2 separate regions of the Homo sapiens genome follow, and region 1 is linked to region 2. The links come from fine-mapping of genetic effects on gene expression. A gene starts in region 2. The other region holds a variant in brackets. All regions are shown on one strand. Distances are between the middles of the regions.

What was found.
Region 1: its variant is fine-mapped to the expression of PNPLA5 in hippocampus (GTEx, PIP above 0.99). The same link has a PIP of 0.9 or more in cerebellum, cerebral cortex, iPS cells, nucleus accumbens and prefrontal cortex.

The regions. Positions count from the first base shown.
Region 1 is chr22:43,808,248-43,820,641 of GRCh38, reverse strand. EFCAB6 (EF-hand calcium binding domain 6) reads left to right here and starts at 8,337. Exons shown (of 32, transcript NM_022785.4): 1 at 8,337-8,474; 2 at 11,511-11,647. It overlaps EFCAB6-DT (EFCAB6 divergent transcript), which reads right to left and starts at 8,220. Exons shown (of 2, transcript NR_186822.1): 1 at 7,658-8,220; 2 at 2,740-3,728. RefSeq lists enhancers at 1-626, 6,930-7,731, 7,973-8,242 and a silencer at 8,574-8,815. The variant G/CAG (reference allele first, on the strand shown) is at 7,325.
Region 2 is chr22:43,888,302-43,900,304 of GRCh38, reverse strand. PNPLA5 (patatin like domain 5, triacylglycerol lipase) reads left to right here and starts at 8,292. Exons shown (of 9, transcript NM_138814.4): 1 at 8,292-8,617; 2 at 9,011-9,243; 3 at 10,441-10,506; 4 at 10,767-10,976. The coding sequence starts at 8,425. RefSeq lists an enhancer at 1,666-2,865.

The DNA.
Region 1 (12,394 bases), 80 kb after region 2:
GAGGTCACAGACCAGGTGTCCTAAAATTCCACCCAGCAGGAGCATGCTGTGCCTCTTAAGTGTGGTCACAGTGTCCAGCGACTCAGCTCCAGAGAGGAGCTGATGGGTGTGGGAGATGCCGGCTTTTCAGCCGATGACAGGCCCGGCCGGCAGGAGCAGAGAGCCCAAGGCAGAAGCACCTGCCACCCAGTGTGGGCCACGGGCACCGTCTCCAAGGCGTGCTGAGCCTTTGCCAAATCCACACATCAAACGACAATTTGATTCTCACACTTGGATCCCTGAATGCTAGCTGGCACTGACTGTCTGAGCTACAGCCCTTAAATCTGTCTCCTCACCACTGAGGAAAGGAGTCTGTGCTCTATTAAAAGCATTTTTTAAAAACCAGAGAATGCTAAATGTGTTTGAAAAATAAAAACCGACCAAAAAATACATTTTATCCCTCTTTAGAGTTGTTATCTTCCCATATATTCGTGGTGCTGGGCACCAGCTGGGAATGCAAGTCTGAAGACTGTGTGAGCAAGGCCCCCTCTGCAGAAGCAGAGACCGCATTGGAGCCAGCCAGAGACTCTTCCCCAGTCCACGCATCCCCAGACACTGAAGTGAATGGTTGAGGGCCTTTTCCCTGTTTCTGTCTCTCAGGTTGACCCTTTACAATCCATAGTACATGCAGTTCCCAGATGGGGAAATAATCTCTCAGATCCAGTTTGTGGCCTGGCACCCATCTCACTGCCAGAGAACCACGGCTTGTCTGTGCCCTCCGTGTCCCAAGTATGCACTTCCCTCCGCCTGGGTTGCCATTCCCCGACTTGACCCAGCTTACACTGATTCAGTGCGATCCAGGCACGATCTACTCCAAGACGCCCTTGGGCACAGTCCAGGCATGATCTACTCCAAGAAGCCCTCTGCCAAGGGTAGGAGCTCAGAGCTCCACTTTTGGTTAATATTACACCTCCCTTAACATATCCCGGATACACGGCCATCTGCCGGGAAAGCTTCTTGAGGCCAGGGCCATGTCTCTCTCACTTTCCTTGGCATCAGGAACTTAGCACAGAAGCAGTGCTCCGTGAAGCCTGATGGCTGGGAGCATTCCCAGAGTCTGACGGATCCAGCCTTGCCTTGTCATGTCAGCTGTGTCCAGCTGCCTCCACTGGCTATGCACTTGGAAGGCCCTCTCTGGCCCAGCCACACTGCTCACTCTGAGACCTTGACCTGCACTTCTAACGTTCGCTTCCCTAACTGCTATGGACCGTTTGGCCCCTTGGAAAGCCTTCCCCGTTATCTGTAGGTGCTGCCAATCCATGTCCACCACATGCCTTGGGCTGGTTTAAAAACGCAATCTCCTGGGGGCTGCCATGAATGAATCCCAGCTCACTGCCATCCTGGACACAACTAGGCCTCAGTTTTTACCAAGGACCTTAGGGGGGGGTCACCAGATCTGGCAGACAGGCTGTTTTTCAATGGGTGATGGCTGCCTCCATCCTGCGTCTCCATCACGCCCGGACTCTGCAGAGGAAGAGAAGGCCGGACCGTTCCTTAGCCCACAGAAGGCGTGACTGGCATATCTTCACTCCCATCATGAGACGGGATGCAGAAACGCATATCTTTTTTCCTTAGAAGTGTGCCAGCAGTTAGAGCCTTGAATTCGGAAAGAGTGATGATTCCCTGTAGTGGTATATCGGTTTGCATTTGCTAACTGCTTTCAAGTTTTCTTTCCTGAGTAGATATTTCTAGTCCAAGTAGGCTGTGAGCAGAGTCTGTGCCTCATTCATCCCTCTGTTCCCATACTGTGCATTCGTTCCTAACAGGTAATCCATAAATGCTTGTTACCTAACTAAAGGCAAATTAAATGCTAAACAGCACTAATGACAAGCTGTTGCAAGATCCCGGCTCTCAGGAAAGAATTACTTGTGGTTGTCAGGGGCCTGCCTGTTGCCCAGGTGTAGGAAACATGAAACACTTCTTTCCCAACTGCTTCTCTATTCCAGAGGTGGTGCATTCTTCTAAGATTGCTGCAATATAATGTTTGGGAGGCAGGTTTCATTAAAATTATTTTTTGAGACAGAGTCCCACTCTGTCACCCAGGCTGGAGTGCAGTAGTGCGATCTCAGCTCTCCTTAACCTCCACCTCCCAGGGTTCAAGCGATTCTCCTGCCTCCGCCTCCTGAGTAGCCGGGATTACAGGCACCTGCCACCACGCCTGGCTAATTTTTGTATCTTTAGTAGAGACAGGGTTTCACCATGTGGACCAGGCTGATCTCGAACTCCTGACCTCAGGTGATCCCTCCGCCTCGGTCTCCAAAGCACTGGGATTACAGGCGTGAGCCACTGCGCCCAGCCAGGGTTCATTAAAATTCTAAATATCAGTGTTCGACACCACGGAATCTTGTTCAGGAGCAACATAAGTGGATTTTATTCTTCTTTCCGTGAAAGGAAACAACCAGTAGCTATTAAAGGAAATTAAGAGCTTAATAGTATATCAGTCTCTTAAAGGGGAAAGAGAACATGCCTAGGTGCTTTGCTGAGCCTGTGGAGAGCCGCTCTCCATGGAGGATCCTCAGATAGATCCTCAAATGGCCCCCTGTTTACAAGTAATCATCAATTATTTGTAGTGACAACGTTTAACATGTGCAATTTAGTTTCTGGCTGATTGAACTAAAACGAGCAGCTGCGTCATCTGTCAAGGTAAATATTCGAGAGATAAAGCAGCTATTTTAATAAAGAAAAAATAACCACAGTAGCTTTTCCAAAAGAGCTACTTATACCTCATTTATTTTTATGTCATATTTTTTTTTCCTCCTCAGGACAGCTGAAGAGAATCTTGTCTCCATTTTATGAGACTACCAAAAGGACAGCAGTCAGGGAAGCAGATTTCTGAGAGGGAGAGGCTCTCCGCTTCCATGTGGACACGCTACGCATCCCTGCCACGTACTTGCTCTTCTTCCCTTCTTTATTAATAGACATGGTGGAAACCAGTACTTAACTTCTTCGTGGCTAATCAGCCCCTACTGTTTCTTTCTCCACATGAAGGCATAATCTGCATTCGTAACATCATCACTGATGCCTGTGAGATAATTACAGGCTCGATCTTACGGCCCAGTCTCTTAGGTGTACAGAATTGTGGTGAAAACCAGCTCCAAGCCCCCAAAACCCGCAGGGTGGGCAGAGGGTGATTGTCACCCAGGTCTCCATGATCCCAGAGTTTCTTCTTGAATACTGAGGGAATGGACCATCTGTTGCATATAAGTGTAAAGATATTTTCTCCAGCAATTCATGGTTTCCTTTTCAAGATTCTCATCAAAGGTCTTGAGCAGCAGACTCATGCCATGGGTGTAAATAGTACAGATGGTAACGGTTCCTCAGGAGGTGAGTTTACTGGCTTCAGTGATGCTGAATGGTATCTAGGAAAAGGTAGGACCCTCACCCACCAAATCCAGGCTTCAGCCTGTTGGAAGTGGACCCACTGCAGGGCACCTAAGGGAACCATCAATGTCTTCTGGGAAGTTTTTTTCAGAGAAGACAACAATCTCCTCCTACAAACTGTTCCTTGGGGCCACTGTCACATTATACAACTCTGGTCTGTTCCATCAAAGATCAAACCTTATTGAATAGATTTTAGGGGCTCATCTAGATAATAAATGAGGGAAATTTCAGTTTCTGTAAAAATTAAATCTGCACATGGAGGTGAGACGTTTCCTGGAACAAGGAAAACCCTCTGGATTGAAGATGATCTTTAAGGAGAAAAAAGAGAGAATCACGTGACAAAACTTCATGATGGACTCATCTAATTAGTCATTTCAACATATAGAAAAATTATCCTTGGGTTCAAGGAAATCAGCAAGGGTTTTGAGTTTCTGGGTTCTTGGCTACATTGATCCAGTTGTACACCACTTATGTGTGCGTCACTGTTACTGTTGTTTTTTTTTTTTTTTTTTTTTTGAGACGGAGTCTCGCTCTGTTGTCCAGGCTGGAGTGCAGTGGCGCAATCTTGGCTCACTGCAACCTCCGCCTCCCTGGTTCAAGCAATTCTCCTGCCTCAGCCTCCCAAGTAGCTGAGATTACAGGTGCCCACTACCACGCCTGACTAATCATTGTAGTTTTAGTAGAGATGGGATTTCACTATGTTGGCCAGGCTGGTCTCGAACTCCTGACCTCAGGTGATCCTCCTGCCACAGCCTCCCAAAGTGCTGGGATTACAGGCATGAGCCACCGTGCCCGGCCTGCTTCACTGTTGAGAGCAGGCCAGTGCAAAAGACATTAAGGTATTCCCTACTAGAATTCCATGTTTGCCCACACAGCCAGACATTGGCCAGGGTTTATCACCTAAAATTATCCCTCAGGTTCTTTTGGATTGAAGATGCTTCCAGGACTGTGAGACAATACATTTCTGTTGTCCAAGCTGCCCAGTCTGTGGAAATTTGTTACCGCAGCCCTATCTAATACAACTCCCTTTCTCAGATCCACTTAAACTGTGCACGTTTTGCCCCAATTGCTTTATTATTTGCTATCTATCAATACATAATTTTTTCAGAAGCATTTGAAAGTAAGTTACAGGCTGGGCACAGTGGCTCATGCCTGTAATCCCAGCACTTTGGAAGGCTGAGGCAGGCAGATCACTTGAGATCAGGAGTTCAAGACCAGCCTGGCCAACATGGTGAAACCCTATCTCTACTAAAAATACAAAAATTAGCTGGGCTTGGTGGTGTGTGCCCGTAATCCCAGCTACTTGGGAGGCTGAGGCAGCAGCATCGCTTGAACCCAGGAGGTGGAGGGTGCAGTGAGCTGAGATCGCATCACTACACTCCAGCCTGGGCAACACAGCGAGACTCTGTCACAAACAAACAAACAAAACACCAAAAACCATTAAAAAAATGGAATTATCTTTATTTTTTTTTTCCTAATGTCTTCTTATGATAGGATTAGGTGATGCATTCCAGATTAGAATACTACAGCAGTTGCCCTTTTCAACGGAGGTTGTCCTTCACATTACATCTGAAGCCACACAATGTCCATGCTCCTTGTTGGTAGTGTTAATTTTTATTATGGTATCCAAGCATTGTCCATTTTTCTTTTGTATTATGACTACTTTTTCTCCTGTAAGTAATAAGTGATCTGTGGGACTATCCTTTAAAACAATGCAAATATCCTGCTCCCCATCCAAAGAACCCCGAGATGAAGCACCCGTGAATGATCCTTGCCTGAATCAATCTTCACTCAGTGGTTGCAACATGATGGCTTTTCAGCTCTAGTCCTCCTGCATGACCATTTGTCCCTAGGCCTGCTACTGCAAGCACGTGCCCTCCCTTGTCCTGCATTTATTCTATCTGTCCATCGCTCCTGGGCCTGGACTCATGACTCCTATTTCTTTTACTGTCCTTCATTATTCTGGCCAGCAGGAGCCCCATTCAAGCTGGCTTCTGGGCTTTGTGACCATAGCGATCCTGGGGGGAGAATGAGGTTGAGGTTGTAGGATGGTCCCAGTGGCCCTGCATGCTGTTTTAAAGATTTTTATTTTTAGCATAAGAAGGCTTTTAAGGCAAGGTAGTGCAGGGGAACTTGGAGAGAATGGATGAGATTGCTACCATGTACGTATTCTGGTGTTAGAATCGACAAGACTTGCTGAAGCACTAGATATGGGGTATGAGGTAGTGATCATTGAGGGTAACAACAAGGCTTCCTAGTTTGAGCATTGCTTTGGAATAGGTGAGTGCGGGCAGGCACAGTAGCTCACACCTGTAATCCCAGCACTTTGGGAGGCCGAGGCAGGCGGATCACGAGGTCAGGAGTTCAAGACGAGCCTGGCCAACATGGTGAAACCCTGTCTCTACTAAAAATACAAAAATCAGCTGGGCATGGTGGCTCACGCCTGTAATCCCAGCTACTCGGGAGGCTGAGGCAGAGAATTGCTGAAACCTGGGAGGTGGAGGTTGCACTGAGTCGAGATCGCACCATTGCACTCCAGTCTAGGCGACAGAGCAAGACTCCGTCTCGAAAAAAAAAAAAAAGTAATAGGTGAGTGAGGGAGGTGAGTGGATCAAGGGCAATATGGATGGCTTAAGTCTGAGTGATCTCCAGTACATTCCAGTAGAGGGGTCAAGGCTGGTGAGAAGCATAACAGCAGGACCTACGACAGGGTCAGAGGGGCCCTAACATCCAAAGGCCACACAGAGGAGGGAAGTCACCAGTGGGGCCCAAGAATTGAGTAGTTGGTGTGGTATTAGAGAAGCCTGAAGTATTTCAGGCAGAAAGGAGTGATCAACTGGGCTGAATGCTACTGAGAGGTCAAGTAATGTACGGCCAAGTAGAGAAGAAGTATTTGTGAGAATGCCAGTTACCAGGCAATGAGAGTCACGCTTCTGTGAAATTTGGTAACTGAAAGACAGCATGTATAGACAGCTCTACTGAGAAGCAGGTTAAAGAGGAGCAGAGAAATGGGGTGGAAACCAGAAGATCATCTATTTTTTTTTTAAAGATGTGAGATACTAGAGCATGTTCCAAGAAGGAGGGAAAGAGAGAAAGAGAAAGAATGAGACTCTTGGCTATCATGAGAGAGGGAATAACTGAAGCCCTTTTGATCTCAGGACCAAACTTTTTGGCCTCAGGATCCATTCACACTCTTAAAAAGTATTGAGGATCCCAAAAAACTTTTATTTATGTTTATATCTATCAATATTTACCATGTTAGAAAATACAATTGATAAAAAATTTATTAACTCATTAAAAATAATAAACCCATTAGATGTTAACGTTCTCTAATGAAAAATTACACTTTCCAAAAAAGTGAAAAGAGGGGCAGTTTTCTATTTTTGCAGATCTCTTTAACATCTGGCTTAGTACAAGACCGCTGGATCTCTTACCTTCTTTTGCATTCAATTTGTTGCAATATCACACATCATGTAGCTTCTGGAAAATCCCCCCATATACTTATGAGAGAAAAACAATGAAAAAGCAAGTAAAGTCTTAAGTGTTATGAAAGTATTTTTTGGCCCCATGGACAGTCTGAAAGGGTCTCAGGATCCCCAGGGATTCCCAGACCACACTTAGAGCACTGCCTATAATAAAGAAGGCAAATGGGGAGGGATCCAGGACACAGTTAGAGGGACTGGCCTCTGTAAGAGACCCTCTTTTGGGGCAAGAGGAAAAGAGGCGATGAATGCCAAAGTGATTGTGAAGGAGTGCATTCCATTCTTATGCATTACATTTTCTCAATGGGATAAGACCCATGGTCATTGAGTCCGGTGAGGAAGTAGTGAGTGCGGGAGGTCTGAGACAAGCCATGGGAAAGAATTCTCTTGGTGAACAGGAAAACTAGCTGCCCAGTGAAGTA[G/CAG]TCAGAGTGCCCAGCAGGGACCGCATAGTATCCATCTTTGCAGCACACACCAGGGCACCTAATTGACCTGCCGCAGCCATGTGTGCAAGGAATTCCAAGCTGCACACGTCTGCCTGGCTGCTTCTCTCCCACAGTGAGCAGTGTGGCAGGGTGCCTAAGAGCAAGCTCCATAGGTTCTCATTCTGCTCCTACCCCTGACTGGCAGTGTGTCCTTGAACAAAATGCTCTGTGTGCCTCAGTTACCTATCTGTAAAATGGGAGTAACCACAGCACCCACCTCACAGGGTTGTTGTGAAGACAAATGAAGATGACAATTACATGTAAAGTACATACCTAGGATGGGTGAGTGCCTGGCAAGGGAAGTGCTCCATAGGGTCAGCGACAACAATTACATTCACTCACGTGATTTATGGCGCTTCCACTCGGCCCTCTGTCTTAGTAATAATTCACTCATTTAGCGAATATCAATGGAATGGATGCTTACTGTGGGTATGGGCGGAGGCTGAGGTTACAGCCTGGGCAAAGCAGGCCAGCTCCCGTCCTCACCGGCTGTCTCCTCGAGCAGACAAGCGGACCCAGTGAGACCCGCTACGTGGTGGCACAATGCGAGTCCCCATGACTGCTCACCCTAACGAAGGCGCAGGATGCGGTAGGGGCTTTGCGGACCTCACTGCAGCCAATCCTGACCACAGGCCCCAGTGGGCACGCTTAGCCTTTTACAGATGCAGAGTCTGCTTCTCAGAGCAGGGGGCTGACTTCCCCCGGCTACACGGCCCTATGCAGTTCGGTGGGACCGGGCCGACCGCCCAGCTCGCGCTAAAGCCCACGTAACAGAAACCCGCTCCCATGACACGGGTCGCCAGGGTTCCCGCTCCCCAGAGAACGGGACTTCCGGCGGAAATTTCTTCCGGGAGCGGAGGCGCGGGACTGACCTGGCCCCGCCCCCTCCTCGTTTATCTCCAATTGACCAATCACAGCTCAGCTTCTTGCCAGGCGCGTAGGCTCATTCTCCAGTCAGCGACTGCCGTCGTCTCTCGGGCAACAGCGTCCTAGAGACGCCGAATGGGCAGCCCCTCTGAGACCCCGCGGCTTGGGGTCCGCGCACGCGGGTGCCGGCCCAGCTAGGCGGAGAATCGAGGAGGGGTTCCCGGTAAGGCTGTATTCGGGGTGGCCACGCGCGTGCGACAGGCCGAGGAGGGGCCGGGCGGGCGGGCAGCTCCGTGGGTCTCACTGCCCTGAGAAGGCCGGCGCTGCTGCCCACCCCCAGGGACGAAGGGGTGGTGATTCGTTTATTCAGGTGTTCATGGCGCGTCTGCTTGTGCCAGGCATGTTGTAGGCCCTGGGGCCCTGTGGGGAACAGTAGGGCCCCTGTTCCCGTAGCTTACCTGATATGTGGAGAAGAACGATAAACAACGCTGACGGTGGTGACGTCTTCTTCCCTGCCTCTCTGTGAGAATCAGCTGGGAAATGTGTGTGGAAACGCCCTAAATCTCTCCAGTTTACAACATGTCTCATGCCCCTGATTTCATTTGTGCCCACAGCAGTCTTGTGAATGTCATGATTGACTCCCTCCTGTAGACAGACGAGGACTTGAAACCTGTGGGGTGAAGGGGCTTTTCCAAAGTCACACAACTATCTTAGGAAGTTTCTGAGCCAGAATTCAAACTCATTTCTGTATCACGGCAAAATCTCTGCTCTTTTACACTCTTCTCCCACAGCCTGCACATAATTACCCCTGCCTCCCTCAGAAATTTTGTTTGGAAGCACTTTGTGAGGTATACATCTGTATAGGGCTTACTTGAAGGTTGTCCAAATCACCCCTCTCTCTACTCCCTTCCTTTCTCTCCAAATCTTTGCCTTTCAGGATGTCTTGCCCCTGTTAAGAGGACTCTTCTTTTCTTTTCTTTTTTCTTTTCTTTTCTTTTCTCCCTCCCCTCCCCTCCCTTCCCTTCCCCTTTCTTCCCTTCCTCCCCTCCTCTCTCCTCCCCTCCCCTTCCCCTCCGCTCCCCTCCCCTTCCCTCCCCTCGCCTCTCCTTTTCTTTCCTGATGGAGTCTTCCTCTGTCACCCAGGCTGGAGTGCAGCGATCCCAGCTCACTGCAACCTCCACCTCCCGGGTTCAAGCGATTCTCGTGCCTCGGTGTCCCAAGTAGCTGGGATTACAGGCGCCTGCCACCACGCCCAGCTAATTTTTGTATTTTTAGTACAGACGGGATTTCACCATGTTGGCCAGGTTGGTTTCAAACTCCTGACCTCAAGTGATCCATCCGCCCGCCTTGGCCTAATTTAATATGTGTTCCTAAATGGGTGGCCTTAACAGAAATGCTGTAAATCAATTCTACTTTCATACACTACAGTTCATGTCTTTTATCCATTGCCTTCAATTCAGCAAACGTTTACTTGGCTAAGTTCTGGGGATATGAAAGTGAGTCAGAAATGGCCCCTTTGATTATATGTGAAGATATTTGCCTCCTATCCAGTCTTATTGCAAGATCCTTTGAGGATGAGGATTTTATTTTAGTTATCTGTGCTTTCCCTTTTTCCTCTATGCTTATTTTAATGCTTGGTTCATGATAGGTGATCATAGATATTTATCAAGAAGTGCTTACCTGAGACTGTAAATTTCGCTCTCCAGGGAAAAACTGCCCTGTTCCAGCTATCTACCTCTTCCCCTTGTACAGAGATCTCTATAGCACCCATGCTCTGATCTCTGCAGCTGACTGGCACCTGGAGACAGAACCAGCTCCATGAGGATGTTTAGTAGCCTGGTGCCTGCCCAGATCAGGAATCTGGTGAGAGGCCACTGGTTGTTAACAAGGCAGTTGTTAACAACTGAGACAGGTTTGAGAAAACTGTGAATAGAGATAACATGAATATGATACCCTTTCAGTATTAAAAGCTTCATTTTCTACTTTTGGTTTTGATCTTTCACTGCTATTTTGTTTACTTTGTTTCAGGTACCATTTGTTACTTTTTCTTTCCATCTATTTGTCCACAGTTTTACTACTTCTATTTCTACTACAGCAACTACTAATACTACTACTGGCTAATACTAATTGAACACTTACTGTGTGCCAAGCACAGTTTGGTCCCTCATACTTTTTAAATTTAGTCCTCACAAGTTGGCTATGGAAAAGTACAAGTTGGGTGTGGTGGCTTATGCCTGTAATCCTACCACTTTGGGAGGCTGAGGCAGGAGGATCGCTTGAGGCCAGGAGTTCGAGACCAGCCCAGGCAACAAAGTCAGACCCCCCCCATATCTATGGTGGCATGTGCCTGTACTTCCAGCTACTCAGGAGGCCGAGATGGGAGGATCACTTGAACCCAAGAGTTTTAGGTTGCAGTGAGCCATGATAATGCCACTGTACTCCAGCCTGGGCGACAGAATGAGACCCTGTCTCAAAAAACAAAACAGGCTGTGCGCGGTGGCTCATGCCTGTAATCCCAGCACTTTGGGAGGCCGAGGCGGTTGGATCACCTGAGGTCAGGAGTTCGAGACCAGTCTGGCCAACGTGGTGAGACCCTATCTCTACTAATACAAAAAATTAGCCAGGCATGGTGGCAGGCACCTGTAATCCCAGCTACTCCAGAAGCTGAGGCAGGAGAATCTCTTGAACCTGGGAGGTGGAGGTTGCAGTGAGCCGAGGTCACACCATTGCACTCCAGCCTAGGCAACAAGAGTAAAACTCCATCTCAAAACAGACAAAACCAAAACCAAACAAAAAAACAAAACAAAAGGCAACAGGGACACAGAGAGGTTAAGGGACTTAACAAAGCTGATAAATGGTAGTGAGTATGGCTCCAACTCCAGGACTGCCTGATAATAACCTGTGTTCTTGATGAGTATGCTATCACTCTCAAACACTTATATACTCTACAAGTCCTGCCAAGGCTTTGAGATGACTTGTAAGAATAACTACAATGTGATAAAATAGAAACATGTAAATCAGAATCATTAAAAATATAGACAGAATAGGAAGGTATCAGAAAGAAGGAATACTCAGATCATCTATAACGGTTAATAAAGTTGGGCTGGAAATTTAGCTGGGAGCTTCTTGTCAACTCATGGAAAAATAAAAGTAAAAAAATAGAAGGTAATAAAATTTATTTTTTTTTCCAGGGAAATAAGGCCTTTTGATTCATCTGGAAAAATAGGTCTAACCTGTTTCTAAAATAAATTTCTCACAGGGCTCATCGCAGAGGATTGGAAGGGCCTAGATTACTGCCCAATGACAAAAGTGTGGGCTTAATGTCCTCACTCTTCAGGGAGAGAATGTGGACTTTAGCATTTGAACTGAATATTTGAGATTGAAGATTTCTGAATAGTAAGTTTTCGATAACACCTTCTGAATGTAGTTTTTCCCCTGGGACGTTGTAAATGGTGTTATCCTGCATCCTGGGTTGGTTTCAGTCATTTGTTTGCTCATTTACTTAGCAACTATTCATTGAGCATCTGCCATATGCCAACCCCTGCCTAAGCATTGGGGATCCCCAGGCAGTGGTCATCTCACTGCCTTGGCACTCCTGGTGTTTCCATCCTGCCAGTTCTTCCTGCTGGGTTTTTTTCTGGACTCACTTTTTGTTTTTTCTCTGTTATTTTATTCTGATATTCTGAGGTGACACCTATAACCATATAGCTGTTTTTTGTTTTTGTTTTTGTTTTTGTTTTTGCCCAATGCTCTGTCTGATTTATCTTTCTGTATATCCTCGGGACCTAAAAATAACAGCTACCAAATAGCTAAAGTTCACTGTGTGCCAGGCACTTCACGAATATCACCTGTGATCCATCTACACCTTTGGAGCAGTGGCATTTACCATTTTGGGGTCACCTGCCTTTTGAGAAGTGCTCTAGAAAAATCATCTCACACACAGTTTTGCATGTCAGTAAGTCTGTAGGGCTATAAAAGCACACACATGGACCGCGATTCCATGTTAAGAATACTTGCTTAAAGGAGAGATATTCCAGTGGTCCCTCAGTATCTGTGGGAGATTCGTTTCAGCACCCACTCGAAGATACCTAGATTCATGGATGTTCAATTCCCTTATATAAAATGGTGTAGTATTTGCATATA
Region 2 (12,003 bases):
ATGTCCTGGGACGTGACGGCCACTGCTGTGCCCAGCACCTTTGGCACATCCCTCATCTCATCCTCACAATTGCTCAGGGAGAGGTGGCCCTGAACACCTCCATTTCACAGATGGGAAGACTGAAGTGCTGTCTTAGTCGGTCTTCTGCTGCTATCACAGAAAACCTGAGACTGAATCATTTATAAAGAAAAGGGACTTATTTAGCTCACGGTTCTGGAGGCTGGGAAGTTCAAGACTGAGGAGCCACATCAAGTGAGGGATGTCTGGCTGCATCATAACATGGCACAGGGAGAGGAAGGGAGAGCAAGACAGGCCGGACCCACAGGATAATGGCTGGAGTGCAATGGCGTGATCTCAGCTCACTGCAACCTCCACCTTCCAGGTTCAAGCAATTCTCCTGCCTCAGCCTCCTAAGCAGCTGGGATTACAGGCACCTGCTGCCACGCGCAGCTAATTCTGTTGTATTTTTAGTAGGGATGGGGTTTTGCCATGTCAGCCAGACTGGCCTCAGACTCCTGACCTCAGGCGATTCACCCAGCTTGGCCTCCCAAAGTGCTAGGATTACAGGTGTGAGCCACCACACCCGGCCCTGATTACCTCTTAAAGGTCCCATGTCTTAATACTGTCACAATGGCAATTAAATTTCAACCTGAGCTTTGGAGGGGATACAGTAGGCACAGGCACAGCAGGGTCAAGTGACTTGTTCAAGGTCTCTGACCTGGTCAGTGGCAGAGCTGAGATTAGAAACACGTCTGTCAGTTTGCAAAGCCCATGCTGACTGCCTGGCAACACAGCCACCCAAGACAGGCAAGGAGAGGGCTTCCGGGGCCAGGGGAAGGAGACAGCCCACCCAGAGCCCTTGTGCAATGCTTTCTGGCACAACAGGGCCTCCTGAAAAGACAGGTGGCAGCCTGGGGCACAGACTGGAGCCACTCTGCCTGCCAGTTCCCAGCTGGGTTAACCTGGGCAAGTTGCTTCATCTCCCTGGGCCTCAGTGCGAAATGCAGATAATCCAAGCACCTCACCTCCTGAGTTGTCATGAGGTAATCAGCTAATGATTAGAAAGTTACTTCACCTCCACTGGGCGCAGTGGCTCATGCCTGTAATCCCAGCACTTTGGGAGGCCAAGGCGGGCAGATCATGAGGTCAGGAAATCGAGACCATCCTGGCCAACATAGTGAAACCCCGTCCCTAATAAAAATACAAAAAAAAAAAAAATTAGCCAGGCATGGTGGCAGGTGCCTGTAGTCCCAGCTATGTGGGAGGCTGAGGCAGGAGAATCGTTTGAACCCAGGAGGTGGAGGTTGCAGTGAGCCGAGATCACACCACTGCACTCTAGCCTGGTGACAGAGCAAGACTCCATCCCCTGCCCTACAAAAAAAGAAAGTTACTTCATCTCACATTTCACTGTGCCTCTATTTCCCAATCTGTAAATCAGGGCTGACGGCAGTGGTTTGCTGAAAGGATTGAAGAAATTAACCCGGGTAAAATGCTTCCAGGGGTGCCTGGGACATTACACACTCAATCTGCATCAGCCATCATCTCTCCAGCCTGGCCCCCTCCTCCTTATCACTCCCCACACAGGGTCCTGCTTCCTTGAACAGCCAATCTGCTCTAACATCTTTGCTTATGCTGCTTCTGCTGCCTGGCAGAGGCCCTAGCCCCAGATATCCTATTTGTCATTTAGGTGTCAGCTTCAAACCCATCATCTCCAAGAAGCCTTCCTGACCACGAAATATGGAGTAGCTCCCTCTCCATGACGCCTCTGCTACAGCCTTTCTCACTAGCTGACCCATCTCTTGCTGACTTTTATTTCATTCTCTTCCTTTCATTTCATTTTGGTCGGTTTCACAGGATGGACACCCCGTGAGACTCGTGGTCAGTCTGGGTCTCAGCTGTATTCCCAGAAACCAGAACAGCCCTGAGCAGCTCTCCCAGGCCAGGTAAGTCCTCAGTTCCCCAAAAGGCCAGCTCCCAGCTCCACACCCATCACTGGGCTGTCAACAGCTGCCCAGGGCCGTGGGAAGCTGCCCTCCATCCCGATCACAAGGAGGGCCTCTGACCTAAGGCCGTGGCTGCTCCTGGCTTTGTGGCCTGGCTAGCTAGTGCCCTGGTATCTAGGGCACCATGGGCTGGAAGAACGGTTGTCAGACTTGGCAGCATCCTGGAACCGGCTGCCTGCAGTCCTGGACTGGTCAGAGGAGGAGACTGGCAGAAATTCAAAGGGGTCAGGAGACATTTGGACTTGAATGTGGGGAAAGGGGTTTGGGCGCCCAGGTCCTGGAGTGAGTGGGGTGGGAGCCGTGACTCAGACCAGGTCCTGGAGTGAGTGGGGTGGGAGCCGTGACTCAGACCAGGTCCTGGAGTGAGTGGAGTGGGAGCCATGACTCAGAGCAAGTGCTGTGCAAGCTTCTGTGGCGTCAGCTCCTGCGAGGGTGCAGGGCGGGATCAATACCAACCCGTCAAGGTGAGCTGTGTCAGGCCCTGGGACTTTGCTGCCTCTCTACAATGTCTGATCCCTCGTCTAGTCCGTAGCTTGCTCCAGGGCTGGCCCAGCTGCCTGGCCCTATGCCCTAGGGCATCAGGGAAAAAGGCGGACAGGGCACAGGGGAGATGAGGTCTTCCCAATCCTGGGGATGGAGGCAGTGAGAGGAGGAGGAGGAACTGGGAGTCTCCACGTTACCTTGACTAAGCAGTTTCCCTCTGCACTTCAGTTTCCCCTCCTGTTAGCTGGTGGCTGATCTGGGGACACCTGACCCCACATTTCACTCCTTGTTCTTATCTTACGAAGTTGACAGCAGTGCCCAGCTCCAGCATCCAGGGCCTTTGGTGCTCACCCACGCCTGTGGCTGTTCTGTGCCCACCCCCAGCACTGCTCTTACCACCCGGCCCCTGCAGTACCAACCACTCCACAGCTCCTGCCTTGCCCATCTCTGCTGGAACCCACTTAAAAAAAATTTTTTTTTGGTATTAAACAAACCTATTTAAAAATGTTAATATCAGGGCCAGGCGCAGTGGCTCACACCTTTAATCCCAGCACTTTGGGAGGCCGAGGCAGGCTGATCATCTGAGGTCAGGAGTTCGAGACCAGCCTGGCCAACATGGTGAAACCCCGTTTCTACTAAAAATACAAAAACCGTGCATGGTGGCACATGCCTGTAGTCCCACTTACTCAGGAGGCTGAGGCAGGAGAATCATTTGAACCCGGAAGACGGAGGTTGCAATGAGCTGAGATGGAGCCACTGCACTCCAGCCTAGGTAACAGAACAAGATTCTGTCCCCCGCAAAAACAAACAAACAAACAAACAAAATGAGCTGGGCATGGTGGCGTGAGCCTGTAATCCCAGCTATGCTGGAGGCTGAGACAGGAGAATCTCTTGAACCCGGGAGGCAGAGGTTGCAGTGAGCCAAGAATGTGCCATTGCACTCCAGCCTGGGTGACAGAGTGAGACTCGGTCTCAAAAAAAAAATTTTTTTTAAATAAATAAATAAATACAAATGCTAATATCAGGAAATCTTGGCAAAGGGTAGCCATGAACACTGTACTTTTCTCACAACTTTTCTGAAAATGGGAGATGATATCAAAATAAAAAGCTCCCAGGCAGGTGCTGTACCTGGGAAGAAAACGGGGGCGGTCGGGGGGGGGGGGCGGCGTAGAAGGACTCTCAAAAAAGAAAAGGTGGAGTCCAGGAGTCCAGGAGGCAGAGGAAAGGCTTGGAGAGGACGAACTAGAGCCATGTGGCTGGTGAGAGGCAGGGTCTCACTCCATTGCCCAGGCTGGTCTCAGGAGCGGCCCTTCCCCACCTGACTGTCGCCCCTCATGCTTGTGCCTCTGCTGTCCGGGAAACAAGCCACGGTGCACGTGGCCCCTAGTGCCTCCTGGAGGTCACCATGCACACATCAGCCCTCAGTCCCTATCACCAAATAATGGATGCCTGGTCACCCTTCCCCACTTGGTAACACCAAGCACCCACCTTCCCAGACCTGCCCTCAGAAAACCCCGGGTTAGTGGAAGTTGGGTAGCGCCCTGGGCCCCAGCCAGAAGCCAGTGCTGCCCCATGTCCCTCCCCCAACAGGAGCCATTTCAATCCTCCACACCCTCCCCTCACTCTCAGGGTTGCAGTGCAAACGCGTGGGTGCCCATTGTCCGCTGGGGCAGAGCAGCAAGTGCTGAGGCCCCTGGCTGATTTTGCACACTAGTCAAACCAGTTATTAGCACCTGTTTCCCAGATTGGAGGAGGGAGCTTTTCTGGGGCTGGGATTGAATCCACTTACCTAAAATTCCCCAGACTTTAGGCAGGCTCCACATTGTGACAGGAATTTAAAAAGAGTAAGTGATAACTAGCACGTACCAGGGACCCTGCTCAGTGTTTTACAGACATCAGTCATCCTTTGCAACCCCAAAGGTAACCCTATGAGGGCCGTCCTGCCACATCTCCACTTGCAGAGGGGAAACTGAGGTGTGTGACACCCAGAGGCCTGTAAGCAATCGGTGAATGTGGCCAGGCCCCAAACATGACGTGCTCGGACCACTGTTCTACTGAGTGGAGTAACGGGGGGACTGAGGCAGGTGCTCTACCTGGGGAGAAAATGCCGGGGCAGAGGGACTCATGGAAAAGAAAAGGTGGAGTCCAGGAGGCAGGGGAGGGGGCTTGGAGGGGACAAGCTAGAATCATGTGGCTGGTGGGGAGGGGCTTTTTATTTTTCCAAGATGGGGTCTCGCTTTGTTGCCCAGGTGGGAGTGCAGTACTGCAACCACGGCTCACTGCAGCCTCCAACTCCTGGGACCAGGCAACCCTCCCGCCTCAGCCTTTCAAGTAGCTGGGACCACAGCTGTGAGCCTGGCTAATTTTTATTTTTGTAGAGATGGGGTCTCGCTTTATCGTCCAGGCTCGTCTGGAACTCCTATTCTTGAGAATTTTCCCTATAGTCATAAGAAATATTGGTTTTTAACCTTATTTTTTTCTAATGTCTTTGTCTGGTTTGGTATCTGGGTAATACTGGCCTCATAGGATATGTTGGGAAATGTTCCTTCTTCCTCTATTTTTCATAAGAGTTTGTGAGGGATTCGTTGAATTTTTCTTTTTCTTTTTTTTTTTGTTGGGGGGACAGAGTCTCACTCTGTCACCCAGGCTAGAGTGCAGTGGTGAGATCTCAGCTCACTGCAAACTCTGCTTCCTGGCTCAAGTGATTTGCCTGCCTCAGCCTCCCGAGTAGCTGGGATTACAGGCGCACACCACCACACCTGGCCAATTTTTGTATTTTTAGTAGAGACGGGGTTTCGCCATGTTGGCTGGCTGGTCTTGAACTCCCGACCTCAGGTGATCCGCCCGCCTCGGCCTCCCAAAGGGCGGGGAGAATAGATGTGAGCCACCCTGCCCAGCCCAAGGCTTATTTTTTAAGCTTTATGACATTCACATGGTCAAGTACGTGGATTGTGAATGCAATCACATTCACATGGGGAAGTTTTTTGCGGGTAAACAACCATGTAATCAGAGCGACCTACGAAGCATTTCCAGCATCCAAGAAGCCCCCAAGCCCCTCCCAGTCACCTCTTCCTGTAGCAGGGAGTTTGGGAGACTAAGAATGTAAGTGCAGGGCCCTAGGACGGACCCACCTGTTGCCCCCTATTGCCTTGAAGAACCTGCAAGGGGCCTCCAGTGCTCTGTGGAAGCAAACCTCACTTCCTTTTGGAGACACTACCGTGCAAGACTGGCCTCAGGGTGGCCCAGTACGTTTGGTTATGCTTGCTTTGGATTTAGGGAGGTATAATAGAATTAGCATTATTTCCAAGAATGGGAAGCCCAGAGGCCTGGACAATATGGCAAAGGACCGGGTGGACCAGGTGCATCTTCCTTGACACCAGCTCGCCCACAACTGTCCTGTGGATGGCCAGGTCAGGCAGACACCGAGAGGGTAGGAGACTTGCTGAGGGTCACACAGCCAGCAAGCCTGAACTCCCGACATCTTCCCTTGCAGGCTCCTGGCCTTCCTGCAACCTCCCAAGCCACCCCAGAAGTGAGCCTGCCTTGGTTCAGCTGCTGGTTCCAGGGCAGCTCCCTGAGAAGATGGTGCTGCTGGGGAAGGCCGTGCTTCTGGACACTTTCTGCTAGACTTGCCACCAGCCCCATCATTCTGGTGATGCCACCAGCCAGACTGTTTTCCCACTTGATGTTGACCAGTCACCCACCCTGAGCTCTGTGCTGCCTGCTGTCTCTGGGGGGCCTCAGACAGCCCACACCAAAATGCAAGACCCAATTCCTGAAGCATCAAGCACGCAGAAACTCAGCCTGGCTCCAGGCCTTACGCTTCCTCCCACAGCCCCGCACCACCTGCCCTCACCGCCATGACTGCTCTCTCCCGCTGGCTGGCTTCTCACTCCTCCCTACTCCTCCCTGCCTGGTGCCTTTGCTCAAACTCTTCCCTCTGTGCCCATCTCCCTTTCTCCCCGTGGTGAACCCTTGATCGACCTCCAAGGTCCTGCTCAAACCTTGCTTTTTCTCCGAAACCTCCGGAACATGTCCCTGCTGAACTCCCAGCCCCTGAACTCCTCCCTTCCTGAACTCACACTGGTGGTCCACTGTTCCAGGGAGGCTCAGTCTGCCTCCGGCACAGTCACAACTGTGGGTGAAATGTTCCTGGCTGTGCCTGCTGTGACCTGGTTCCCTCCTGGAGCAGAGTCAGCACATGGCTTCTAATTACCCCCTGCAGCTGGGGCTGGGTCCTTCCCGCAATGGAGATAGCCTGGGGTACCTGCCACCAGGTGGGTGAGTCTGTGCAGGCCCATGGTCTTTGAGGCAAGGATGCCGCCCCTGGTGTGGGATCAGCAAAGCCCGGTACCGCCCACCTCTGTGGGAGGGGAGGCTGGGCTGGCCTGTCCCAGGGTGCCTTCTGCACCCAGTGCCCATGGGCAAGCTGCCCTTCACTCCCAGGTCAAGGAAGAGGTAGGTGTGAGGCTAAGAGAAGCAGATCCTCCCACCTCTTCCTCCGAAAATGACCCACCCAGGCCATGGGCTGAGCATTCAGTCCACAAACACTGTGCCACACTTCTTCCAGGCACAGATGGAGGACCTGGCCCTCAAGGAGCTCACATGAGAAGGCACTGATATGTGCCATGTGATTAAAGCAGTAACACAGGGATGGGCGCAGTGGCTCCTGCCTGTAATCCCAGCACTTTGGGAGGCTGAGGTGGGCAGATCATCTGAGGCCAGGAGTTCGAGACCAGCCTGAGCAGCATGGTGAAACCCTGTCTCTACCGAAAATAACAAAAATTAGCTGGGCGTGGTGGTGCGTGCCTGTAGTCCCAGCTACTTGGGAGGCTGAGGCAGGATAATTGCTTGAACCTGGGAGGTGGTGGTTGCAGTAAGCCGAGATTGTGCCACTGCACCCCAGCCTGGGTGACAGAGTGAGACTCTGCCTCAAAATTAAATAAATAAATAAATAACATAGCGGTTGCCATTGATTGTGCGCCACTTGATTAAAACAATCACCGTAGTAACCATTGTTTGTGTGCTTATCCAGTGCCGGGCGCTATTCCAAACACGTTACTTGCATTAACTCTAATCCTTACCGGTCCTATGGAGTAAGTAATGTTATTATCCCCACTTGATGGATGAGAAAACTGAGGCACAGATCAGTTAAATTATCCAGGGTCACCAGCCAAGACATTCTGGAGCCAGAATTGGAGCCCAGACAGCCCTAATCACTACAAACCCAAGTTCTTGGAGCTTTGCAGTTTATAAAGCACTTTCCAATGGATTGATTAGGGGAGGAGGGAGGAGGTGGGATGTTTGAGCAGGCTGTAGTGGTAGGTGAGGCTTGGAGAGCGGGTGAGCCAGGGGAAGGTGCAGTGGTGCTGGCTGGAGCGGAGGCTGGCCCCGAGACCTCTCTTTCCCTCAAGTCCCTCCCTGGAACCAGCACAGCTGCGGACTTAAGCCTGGTTTGACCCCAAAGACCAGGTGTCCTGGGTCCGACTCTGCCACTTCCTGGCTGTCACCATCCTGGGCTGCGCCTCAGTTGCCTCATTTGCGTAATGAGGACTGGAATAACATCTGCCCAGACTACCAGAGATCAGGCAAGATTTGGTCCCACTCCCCTGCCGTGTCACCCAGAAATCTATGACCCGATGCGGATCCGGGGCGGGCGCGTGGGGGCGGCGCCAGCGTATACACAGCGCGCGGGCACTTCTGGGGCACACCTGGCGCACAACTGGAGTGGGGGCTGATCGCGACCCGGGGACTTCATTGGCTGGGGCGCAGGTGACGCAGCCCGGGGGCGGCGCAGGGAGCACCAGCACCAGCCCCAGCCCGGCTCCCTCCAGAGCCCACATTTGGGCCCAGCCCCGTCCAAGGCTGCATCCCGGCCCTATCCCGGGTCACGGAGTGACCCTTCCTCGTCCCGATCACCCCGCCCGGTCCACCCGCCATGGGCTTCTTAGAGGAGGAGGGCAGATGGAACCTGTCCTTCTCCGGCGCCGGCTACCTGGGCGCCCACCACGTGGGCGCCACCGAATGCCTGCGCCAGCGAGCCCCGCGCCTCCTCCAGGGCGCCCGCCGCATCTACGGTTCCTCGTCTGGGGCGCTCAACGCAGTCAGCATCGTCTGCGGCAAGTCGGTCGGTGAGTCCCGGACCGCGGGGGCGAAAAGGGGCGGGGACAGCTTAATGAAAGCGGATCGAGCCCAGAGACGCTGGTGCCTGGCGCTGTGCTCTGCGCCCTCTACCCCCGGCACAGCCTCATTTAATCCCATGAGAACACCGAGTGCTGGGGACTAGGTGACCCCCATTTGCAGAGGAGGGATCGTGGCTCAGAGCCAGAAACTCTGTTTCCCAGGTCGGCGGGGCAAAAAGTGAAAAGGTGAACGGATCATTTGAATCCGGGGCCGAGCCCAGAAATTCTGAGCTGGAGTGGGGAGGACCCCGCTCCCACTGCACCTAGGAGGGCAGTGGGGGTGTGGAGGGACTGGCAGGATCCCTGGGCGCTGAGGTCTCCCTTTCCCTGCCCCCACTGCAGACTTCTGCTGCTCCCACCTCCTGGGCATGGTTGGGCAGTTGGAGCGGCTGAGCCTAAGCATCCTGCACCCGGCCTACGCGCCCATCGAGCACGTCAAGCAGCAGCTGCAGGATGCTCTGCCCCCCGACGCCCACGTCCTGGCCTCCCAGCGGCTGGGCATTTCGCTGACCCGCTGGCCTGACGGACGCAACTTCTTGGTCACTGACTTCGCCACCTGCGATGAGCTCATCCAGGTGTGGGGCGGGGGGTGCCCAGGGCTTGGCTGGTGGGCGGGCTCCATCTAGTCCAGAGTGACATCCAGGTACTTCCCCGTCAGACGTTTCTGCAGGGGCGGAAGGAGGGAGGGCGGGTGGACCTGTTTGTAGGTGAGGAAACTGAGGCCCAGAGAGGGTCGGCAGGGTGGGTCTGGAGACTTTCCAGGTTGCTGCACACAGAAGGGTCTGGCTGGGGCCCGGCAGAGTCAGGCTGCTGAGTCAGGGCCCCCACAGGGACTGCTCTTTCCAGAGGGCAGCTGGCTAGCCCCAGCCTCCACCCCACTCCATCCTCCCGCCGCTTTTTGGCGGTGGGTTGACATTTATTGAACACCTATTATGTGCCAGTCACTATTCTAGGCACTGTGACTGTAACAGGGAGCAAAACAGACAGAAACCCTTGCCTTCCTGGGGCTTCTATGCTCAGTGGTTCTGGGGGGCAGGCGGTATCGATAATGAACTCATCTCCAAGTAAGGAGGTAAGGAACCATCCAGTATTGAAATGAAATAGGATGTCTAAAAAAGATGCTTCACATACACCCTGACACTATTATTTGCCAATAGTGTGTACGCGCACGCTCAAGTGCAGGCACACAGTGTGACAACCAAAAATGTCTCTGACATTGTTAGGTGTCCTGTAGGGGAGAAAATCACTCCTAGTTGAGAACCACCAACCCAGAGCTTGCAAACTTTTGAATATAGGACTTTGTCTCATGGAACCCTTGGAAACGTCCCAACTCTCTCTGGGAGGTGCAGAACCCATCCTGGCCCTGACCAGATGGAGATGCAGGTGACAGTTTTGTTCCCACAGACTGATAACAGTCACGGCAGCTAATGTGTACTGAGCACCTACTATGTGCCAGGCCCCATCCCAACTGCTACACAGGCAAGGAGTCTGGGCCACTCTTTGGGGTCCCCGGCTGGCTTCCTCAGGAGCCTGCACCTGGCCTCCTTCCCTGCACACCCACAGAAAGAGGAGGTGGGTGTCAAGACAGAGGTGCTCCAATCCCTGCTTCCCTTGGAGAGCTTGGCTGGGAGGTGATGCCTCAGCTCCCTCATCTGGACGTGGGACTGATGACACCTCCTTTGCAGGCTGTTGGGATTAGAAACCGTGCCTAGGAAGGTTCTGAATGCAAGAAGCATGCACAGTTGTGTTCCTGCTGACTCTTCTCTTCCTAGGCCTTGGTCTGCACCTTATACTTTCCTTTCTACTGCGGGCTGATCCCCCCCGAGTTCAGAGGGGAGGTGAGTGCACTCTGGAACCCCGTTCTGTGCTCTGGGCAGCCTGGGGTGCACACCGTGGAGAGGTGCTTGGGTGGAGGAAACCAGCGCTCCTTGAGCACCTACTGTGTGCCAGGCCCTCCCCCTGCTCCTGGGGGGCGTTCAGCCTCCTGGGCTGGAGTGGCCCTGGTGACTCAGGGACAGCTGGAGGGTCACCGGCTGCAGCCAGTGTGGGAGGCCCTCTGAGAGGGCAGCACCACCCACCTGCTCCCCACAAATTGCAGCGCTACATCGATGGGGCTCTGAGCAACAACTTGCCCTTTGCAGACTGCCCCTCCACCATCACGGTGTCGCCCTTCCATGGGACAGTGGACATCTGCCCCCAGAGCACCTCCCCCAACCTGCATGAGCTGAACGTCTTCAACTTCAGCTTCCAAATCTCCACTGAGAACTTCTTCCTGGGGCTCATATGTCTCATACCCCCCAGCCTCGAGGTAGGTCTGGCCCTGTGATGGTGTTAGAGGCTTGGCCAAGGTCAAGGGCCCCGTGAGTCAGACTCTGTGTGCTCCTAACCCCCACTGCCCCCCGAGCCTGAAGGCAGTTACAACACATGTCCCGAGTCTCACAGCCAAACACCTGAATCCTAAGCTTGGGGTTCAGTTGTGTCCTTACTGTTCTTGCTGCCCTGAGCCAGTGATGAATGAGGACTGGCCCCATGTCAATGGGACACACTCACGCCAACTCTGCTTAGCTGGCCTTTGAGCAGGGCCTTTGCCTGTGCTCCTCTGGGCCAGGGTCTGTAGGCAGGTACCGTTATCATTTCCATTTCTCAGGGGAGGATGCTATGGTTCAGAGAGGTTAAGCAACTTGTTCAAAGTCACACAGACTGGAAGCAGCAAAACCAGGATTCAGACCTAGAGCTGGCTCAGGCCCATGCTCTTGACCACCGTCCTTGACTGTGGCCAAATTGACCATCCATTGTAGAGGCAAGGCACAAATGCAAAGAAAAAAATGAAGGAAGCGTTTTTTTACCCCTTGGTATTTCTGGAAAACAGATAATTTGACAACTATTGAAATATACTCCTCCTGGCCGGGTGTGGTGGCTCATGCCTATAATCCCAGCACTTTGGGAGGCCAAGGCTGGCAGATCACTTAAGGTCAGGAGTTTAAGACCAACCTGGCCAATATGGTGAAACCCTGTGTCTACTAAAAATACAAAAATTAGCTGGGCATGGTGGCGCATGCCTGTAATTCCAGCTACTCAGGAAGCTGAAGCAAGAGAATTGCTTGAACCTGGGAGGTGGAGATTGCAGTGAGCCGAGATAGTGCCATTACACTCTAGCCTGGGTGACAGAGTGAGACTCCATCTCAAAAAAAAAAAAAAAAAAAAAAAAAAGAAGGAAAGAAAGAAACACACACACACACACACACACACACACACACACACACACTCCTCTGCCCCATCCACATCCTGGCTCTTCCTTGTCCCTTCTACCTCTCAGGTTTGTGTAGTGCTTTCTA